Linked DNA regions of Homo sapiens. The protein of the gene in region 1 purifies or fractionates together with the protein of each later gene. This does not show direct contact. Each region holds a gene or a part of one and is shown on either strand. Other genes may lie near its edges.

Region 1 (3,786 bases):
CTATGTGCACTCATAAATTCACTAATAAATGCTGCTGAAAGTTAACTGTTGTATTGGAAAAAGTGATCCTTTTTCTTTCTCATGGCATATCAGGAAAATAATAGCTAAAATTTTGCAAGGGCCAAGAGCTTTCTGTGCACCATCTCATTGAACACTCATGGCGATCCTGTATGATCTTTACTGTACTTGTCCTATTTCTTTCACTTTTAGAGAGGAGGACATGGAGCATGGTGGGTCAGAGAGGTTAACCGACTCATCCGAGGTCACACAGCTAGCAGGTGGTGGAGGCGGGATTCAAACCCAGGCAGCCCAGCTCCAGCAAAGTGCTTAAAAACATGATTTCTAAACTGTTTCTCACCACCTTTAATTTAAAACATGTTGGGCCAGGCATGGTAGGTCATGCTTGTATACAATCCCAGCCCTTTGGGGCCTGAGGCGGGCTGATCACTTGAGTCCAGGAGTTCGAGACCAGCCTGGTCAACATGGAGAAACCCCATTTCTACAAAAAATACAAAAATTAGCCAGATGTGATGGCACACATCTGTGGTCTCAGCTACTTGGGAGGCTGAGATGGGAGGATCGCTTGAGCCTGAGAGGTCAAGGGTGCAATGAGCCATGATCCCACCACTGCACTCCAGCCTGAGCAACAGAGCAAGACCCTGTCTCAAATAAATAAATAAATAAATACAATTCTAACTTTTAAAGCAAATAGCGTTTCTCAAGAAAACAGCTTTAACGATCACAGAGTATTTGGAGGGGGAACAAAGGTAGATAATGGCCCAGCCTAGGTTTCTAGGAAGAACCCTTTGGCCCGCCAGGTAGCCGCCAGGTAGCTCTGTGTCTGAGCCCTGCTCAGGCTGATCGTGGGTCTCCAGTGGGGACAACTCACAGAGAAGAGCAGCGCAAACTGGTGCCTAGTGAAGGCTGAGAAAGGGAGGAGGATGCACACCGGGGGCTTTTAACCTGGCAGGACCCTAGCACTGCTCACATGAGAAGATGCTGGCTGTCTATGCATGCTACTTAATTTTGGCATTTTCTGTGATATTTCTCCAATGAATACACAAATTAGCTATAATAATGTTTTCCCAAACACAGCCTAGATGAGCCTGTTGATTTTAGATTGAGCATCCAAACGACTTCATTATGACCCTGAGCTCCATTTCTTACCCTTGACTTGGAACCCAAGGTGGCCAATGGCGAATGACTTTGCTCTTGATTTAGGAATGCTTCCAAAGAGGCCAGAAATCTGTAGAAAGTTGCAAGTGACTGCTCTGATATCTCAGGCACCAGGAAAAGTTGTCCAGGCGCCAGATGCCCTTTTCAATCCAGAAACAACTTTAAAATCATTTTAAAGTCCAAAGCTAATTTCCTAAAAAGGAACTTGGCAGAAAGGAAGGCTTTCCTCCAACGCTCAAGAATCCACCAAGGAATGTTTTTCTCACTCAGATGAGAGCAAAACTGTCTTGATCTTTGTCCTCACTCTCATGAGTGGATTTATGACTTGGGAGCATCCTGAAAAATAAAACCCATATGTGAGGGTTCTAAAAACTTCAAATACTTGGAAATTTTTCACCCCATTGGTGGGATTTAATAGGAATCTATTTTCGCTCAGCAACACTGAGTGTATCAGCTGAGAGTAGGAAATTGAGTTTTCTTGATCTGCTTATGTGGATTGCGGTAAAGGGTATGGAGGCAGTTGTGGGGGTCTGAAATGATGGTGGAGAGCTTGGGAGAGGAGCAGGCAGTTTTGCCATCTTTTCACTTTGGGCCCAGAGAGCAATTGCATCCAGCAATTGCTTGTTGATGGGCTGCATGAGGTACTCTCCAGGGATTTGGCCTTCATGGAGTTCACTGTCATGTAGCCTGAAAGACTGATACAAGCAGGTTGCACTAACTTGTACATAAGATAGAGCAACACTCCAAAAGTCAGCACCTTGGGACTGACCCTGGCCACTTTGGGGCGGGACCTGGGGGTCAAGGGCCTTAGGCCCAGCTTGCCTTCCATATCCCCTGTCACTGCCTCTGTGGTTCCCAAGCTTCTCTCATCCCTTGAAGGGCACTGTCCAAGTTGCTTGCCCTTCTGCAGAGCCTATATTTTGAAGGATTTGTCTCTGGTAGGAAACATACTCATTAACTAATAGTGAATTGGCACCTCTGTTTCTTTTCAGTTTTTCAATAGATATTTCTTTTTCCTTTTTTTAAAAAACTTTACCATCTGCATCTTTTTTTTTTTTTCTTTTTTGAGACGGAGTCTTGCTCTGTGGCCCAGGCTTAGTGCAGTGGTTTGATCTTGGCTCACTGCAACCTCCACCTCCCTGGTTCAAGTGATTCTCCTGCCTCAGCCTCCCGAGTAGCTGGGATTACAGGTGCCACTACGCCCAGTTAATTTTTGTATATTTAGTAGAGACAGGGTTTTGCCATGTTGGCCAGGCTGGTCTTGAACTCCTGGCCTCAAGTGATCTGCCCACCTTGGCCTCCAAAAATGCTGAGATTACAGGTGTGAGCCACCACACCCGGCCCATCTTCATAATTTTTAAGTGTGCAGTTCAGTGACAATAAGTATCTTTATTCTTTTTCACTCCTTCATCCCTGCGTCCCTGCTCCACTTCCTGGCCTCCAGTAACCAGCAGTCTACTGTCTGTCATCATGAGACCCACTTCACAGTTTTAGCTCCCACATATGAGTGAGAACACGAGATATATGTCTTTCTATGCTTGGTTTATCTCATTTGACATAATGGCCTCCACTTCTATCCATGTTGCTGCCCAAAACTCCTTTTTATTGATCTATTTATTTTTAGAGATGGGGGTCTTGCTATTTTGCCCAGGCTGGATCTGAATTTGCGATCCTCCCACCTCAGCCTCCAGAGTAGCTGGGACTACAGGACACCCCACTGCACCCGGTTCATATACCCATTTTTAAACTCATCAGCAACTTGGGGCCAGGTGCAGTGGCTCACTCTTCTAATCCCAGCACTTTGGGAGGCCAAGGTGGGAGGATTGCTGGAGTGTAAGAGTTTGGGATGAGCCTGGGCAAGATGGTGAGAACCCATCTCTACAGAAAAAAAAAAAAAGTAAAACTCCTGGATGATTGGAGGTCAGAGCTTCTAGCTTTGGGAGACATGGTGCTGGTGCATGAAGCTCCAGCCCAAAGTGAAGGCAACTGAGGCACAGCCACCAGGTGCAGGGTGCAGAAGTGAGGGATGAATTTCCCATGGGACACGCTGGCCATCCAGACCCCCACTCTCATCTCTGTGGACCTCTGGGGTCCTGGCATCTTGGGTTGGGCCATCCCCTCCACCTTCCCTCCACTCCACCTGTCCTGTCTCTCTTTTTTTGAATTGGAGTCTTCCTCTTGTCACCTTGCCTGTAGTGCAATGGCGTGAACTTGGCTCACTGCAACCTCTGCCTCCTGGGTTCAAGCCATTCTCCTGCCTCAGCCTCCTGAGTAGCTGCGATTACAGGGGTCCACCACCATGCCAATTTTTGTATTTTTAGTAGAGATGGGGTTTCACTATGTTGACCAGACTGGTCTTGAACTTCTGACCTCTGGTAATCCATGCGCCTCAGCCTCCCAAAGTGCTGGGATTACAGGTGTGAGCCAGCACGCCCAGCTGGCATCTTTTAAACAGACCTCATGCCTCCCCTGTCTCTGCCTCCACTGGCCCAACCCTTACTGCAGGGCTCCCTCCCTTTTGCTAAAACCCTGCTGTCCCTTCACCTGGAATGTGCTATCTGTGAACGTATGCTATTTAGAGAACCTGGAGCATTCATTCTGAGTGAGTGT
Region 2 (3,588 bases), on another chromosome or scaffold:
AATATATAAAAAGGATAGTTTTGAATCTTCTAGTTATGCAAAGAACATAAATGTAGTTTCAGAAGCAAAACATAAAAGAAACTGCACTGAATCTGGAAGGCAAGATTCATTCTGAAACGGCCATAACTGAAGTACGGCAATTCTATTTTTGTCACATTTTAAAGCACAAAAATTTCTGCTGTCAAAAATGTATCAGATGGGGAAATGCAGTGAATGAACTTTACATGATGAAAGAGAATATCACTCCACAAGAAATACTCTGCCACAGCAAGTCTTTGATAATAAACATCATGACAACAGCAAACAAAGACTAATGAGATGACATGGGAACCGACACTAAACAAACATGGCAGGGAAGCAAGAAGTATCTTCTCAAACATCTCCATCTCCTTTCAGCATTAAAAGCAGCATGGATTTCAGGAAAAGTAAGACAAACTAGGCACACACGAAAAGACTCTTGCTTCCTCTGCTGGGTACTGAAGGAAACTATAAAAGAAAGCTCATCTCACTTAGTCTCTGCATGAAGACATCCTGGAAATACCCTCAAAACATGAGTCACTTCCCTTTGCCAATTTCTGACAAAAAGGTGAAGATAACTATAATAGGAAGATGTCTTGTGCAAGTATGCGTTAAACAGCTAAAACCTGATGGATTGAGGGCTGGCCCCATGACAGGCAGAAGTATGACTGAAACCCTAATACCTTCTCATTACTGCAGAAATACTCTGGGGAACATATATGATCTATTGACAGTGGTGCGGTGGGGATAGAGGGATGTACAATAGCACAAAAGCATTGGATGCTTAGAGAAAATATGAGATATTTGGCCAGGGAGTTTGTCCTGCTGTCAGACTTCTAACAAGAAAAAGTTAATTCTGTCACTTCAGCAACCAACCCCAGTGTAAAAACCACAGGCTTGTATATTAATGTTTATGTATGTATGTGTGTATATATATGTGTGTGTGTGTGTATATATATATATTCTTTGAGACAGGGTCTTGCTCTGTTGCCCAGGCTGGAGTGCAGTGGTGCCCGATTATGGCTCACTGCAGTCTCAACCTGTTGGGCTCAAGTGATCCTTCCACTTCGGCCTCCCAAGTAGCTGGGACCACAAGTGCACACCACCATTGCCCAACTAGTTTTTGTATTTTTTATAGAGACGGGGTTTTGCCATGTTGTCTAGGCTAGTTTCAAACCTCTGAGCTCAAGCAATCCACCCACCTCAGCCTCCCAAAGTGCTGGGATTACAGGCATGAGCCACTGCGCCTGGCCAATATTTTGCTTTTTAAATGGGTTCCACTTATAAACCATATGCTACAAAAGAAAAAACCTTAAGCTTCTCTATGCTTGTCCAAAGCAGTCTTTCCCATCATTTTATTCCCAAGGAATAAGAGTAGAAGACACTGAAGAATATGCTTGGAAGTTAACAGAGGCAGTGTGGAGTGACAGAAAGAGGACAGATTCTGGAGTCAAAGACTTCTGAATCTTAGCTCTGCCACTTACTAGTTGGAAGAGAAAATAAGAGCACCAAATCCAGTCCACATTACTCATACATTAATATTTACTTACCTTGTCCCCTTGAGAAAGTAACTTATTCTGAGCTTCCAACTCTTTGCCTGTAAAACTGAGGTGCTGCCACCTAACTCACAAGATTATTTATGAAAATTAAAGTGCCTGGCATATAGTATGCACTCAGTTCCTTCTCTTTTCTTACGATCTCTCCTCCTAACATTGTTTCCAACTGAACCACTGCACTTTCTTGTCCTTCAAACTCCAGTAACATGAAGAAACAACATGGAGATTTTGGAGCAGCAGCTACTGTTGTATATAGCAGTACAGCCACGGTACAACATATGTTCATTAAGTAGGCGTTACAGACCTATGATTCCCTCCCAGTTTTCTCTGGGGTTTAAATCTAGTCTTCTACATACCCAGCCACATATTTACATGCTCATTATTAAAATTCCTTACTCAGTCAACAGATATCCATACAGGGAGAGAGAACATGTCAGTGGAATTATTAGACTAGGAATCAGGAAACAAACGATCCACTTGCTTCATTATCAATTCTTGTAGAGCTGGACTCTGAATCACCAGGTGGAAAGTCTAGACCAGCACTGTCCAATAGATCTTTTTACGATGATAGAAATGTTCTATATCTGTAATGTCCTGTATGGTATCCACTAGTCACCTGTGGCCACTGAGCACTTGGAATGTGGCTATTGTGACTGAGGAACTGAGTTTTAAATTTTACTTAATTTTAATTAACTTAATATTGAAATAGCCATGGGTGGTTAGTGGCTGCCATATTAGATACTGTGGATGTGGAACACTTCCATGACCAATTAACATTAGTCAGACATTAATATTTATTTACCTTGCCCCCGTTCCATGGACACTGGTCCACTTCCTGGCATTCCAACCTGAGCCTGCATTCCTCCTAGAAGATAAAGGGCAGACAAGAAAAAACACCAATTAGAACAGCGGAAAAGAAAAATTAGAACAGTGGCTGAGTTTACAAATTTCCTCATTCTGCTCCACAAGCAGAAACCTACAAAGGAAGATATTCAACAATGCAATGAGAGAGAAGATGGGGTTTGTTAGTATATTTACAATTTGTACTTTATGTTTCAGTGACAGAATAGTGAGTTCAATAAGAATAATTCATTTCATTGGTTACCAAACTCTTGGCAGGAAGCTCTTCTATAATACAGGAAAACAATGTCACTTACCCATGGACCTCCTGTCATGAAAGATAATTTAAATACAAGTATAACTCTATTAGGATAAAGTAGATACATAACAATCCTAAAGTAGATACAAAAAATTCCTGAGTTTGCAGAAATTTCTTCAAAAAATCTCTTCTTCCATTCCTCATCAACTTAGCTCTGCAGACTGGATTCTCTACAGAACAGAACAATTTAGAATTAAATCATTCTCCATGAGTAGTGTTGTACTCAACCTACCCTAGATTAGATAAATTAACAAAAACCAAGTTTGTTACATAAAAAAACTTTAAATATTGGTAATACATCATGTGTTCATACAGATGTTTCATATGGGGAATCATTATTTCACTCAATCTTCTTAGTTACAATTGTTGAACAAGGAACAGTTACAAGTATATGAGCAATACTCTTATTAATTGCCGATCTATACATTTTCAATAAATGTACATAGCTTTTAAATTTCTCTTTTTCCCTTTTGTTGTTTGTTCTGATTATGTTTGTTAAAATACAATTTTATGTCAGTTTAATATGCTATAACAAATGTGACCTTGTATTTTTTTGTCTGTTTTCTTCATGAGCTTTTGAACCTAATCTGACAGTTCATTCATATTTAGCAGAGTAACAACTACATTAGTTTTTATTCCTTCCATCTTACTCTACATTTATTATTACTTATTTTACACTGTCTCTTACTTTTTTCCTCTTCTCTATTTTTGCTGGCTTGATTTTGTTTCCACTCATTCCATTTTCCCCCTTGTTAACTTGGAAGTTTTACTATGCTCTTTCACTTTACTGTCCCTTTCCCTGTTCTTATAATTAGACATACAGGATTTAACGTAAGAAATCTACTATTTCCTCCA

The links. Proteins that work in one complex are often made in the same cells at the same time.
Region 2: the proteins of NGEF (region 1) and CSTF2 purify together in Homo sapiens (affinity purification with mass spectrometry, with the first as the bait; one large-scale study listed by BioGRID). This does not show direct contact.

Annotation. Positions count from the first base shown.
Region 1 is NC_000002.12:233,006,578-233,010,363, forward strand, and holds part of NGEF (ephexin-1), read right to left. Parts: intron 1-3,786. UniProt on the Homo sapiens protein: Acts as a guanine nucleotide exchange factor (GEF) which differentially activates the GTPases RHOA, RAC1 and CDC42. Plays a role in axon guidance regulating ephrin-induced growth cone collapse and dendritic spine morphogenesis.
Region 2 is NC_000023.11:100,826,891-100,830,478, reverse strand, and holds part of CSTF2 (cleavage stimulation factor subunit 2), read right to left. Parts: intron 2,440-3,588; coding exon 2,377-2,439; intron 1-2,376. UniProt on the Homo sapiens protein: One of the multiple factors required for polyadenylation and 3'-end cleavage of mammalian pre-mRNAs. This subunit is directly involved in the binding to pre-mRNAs.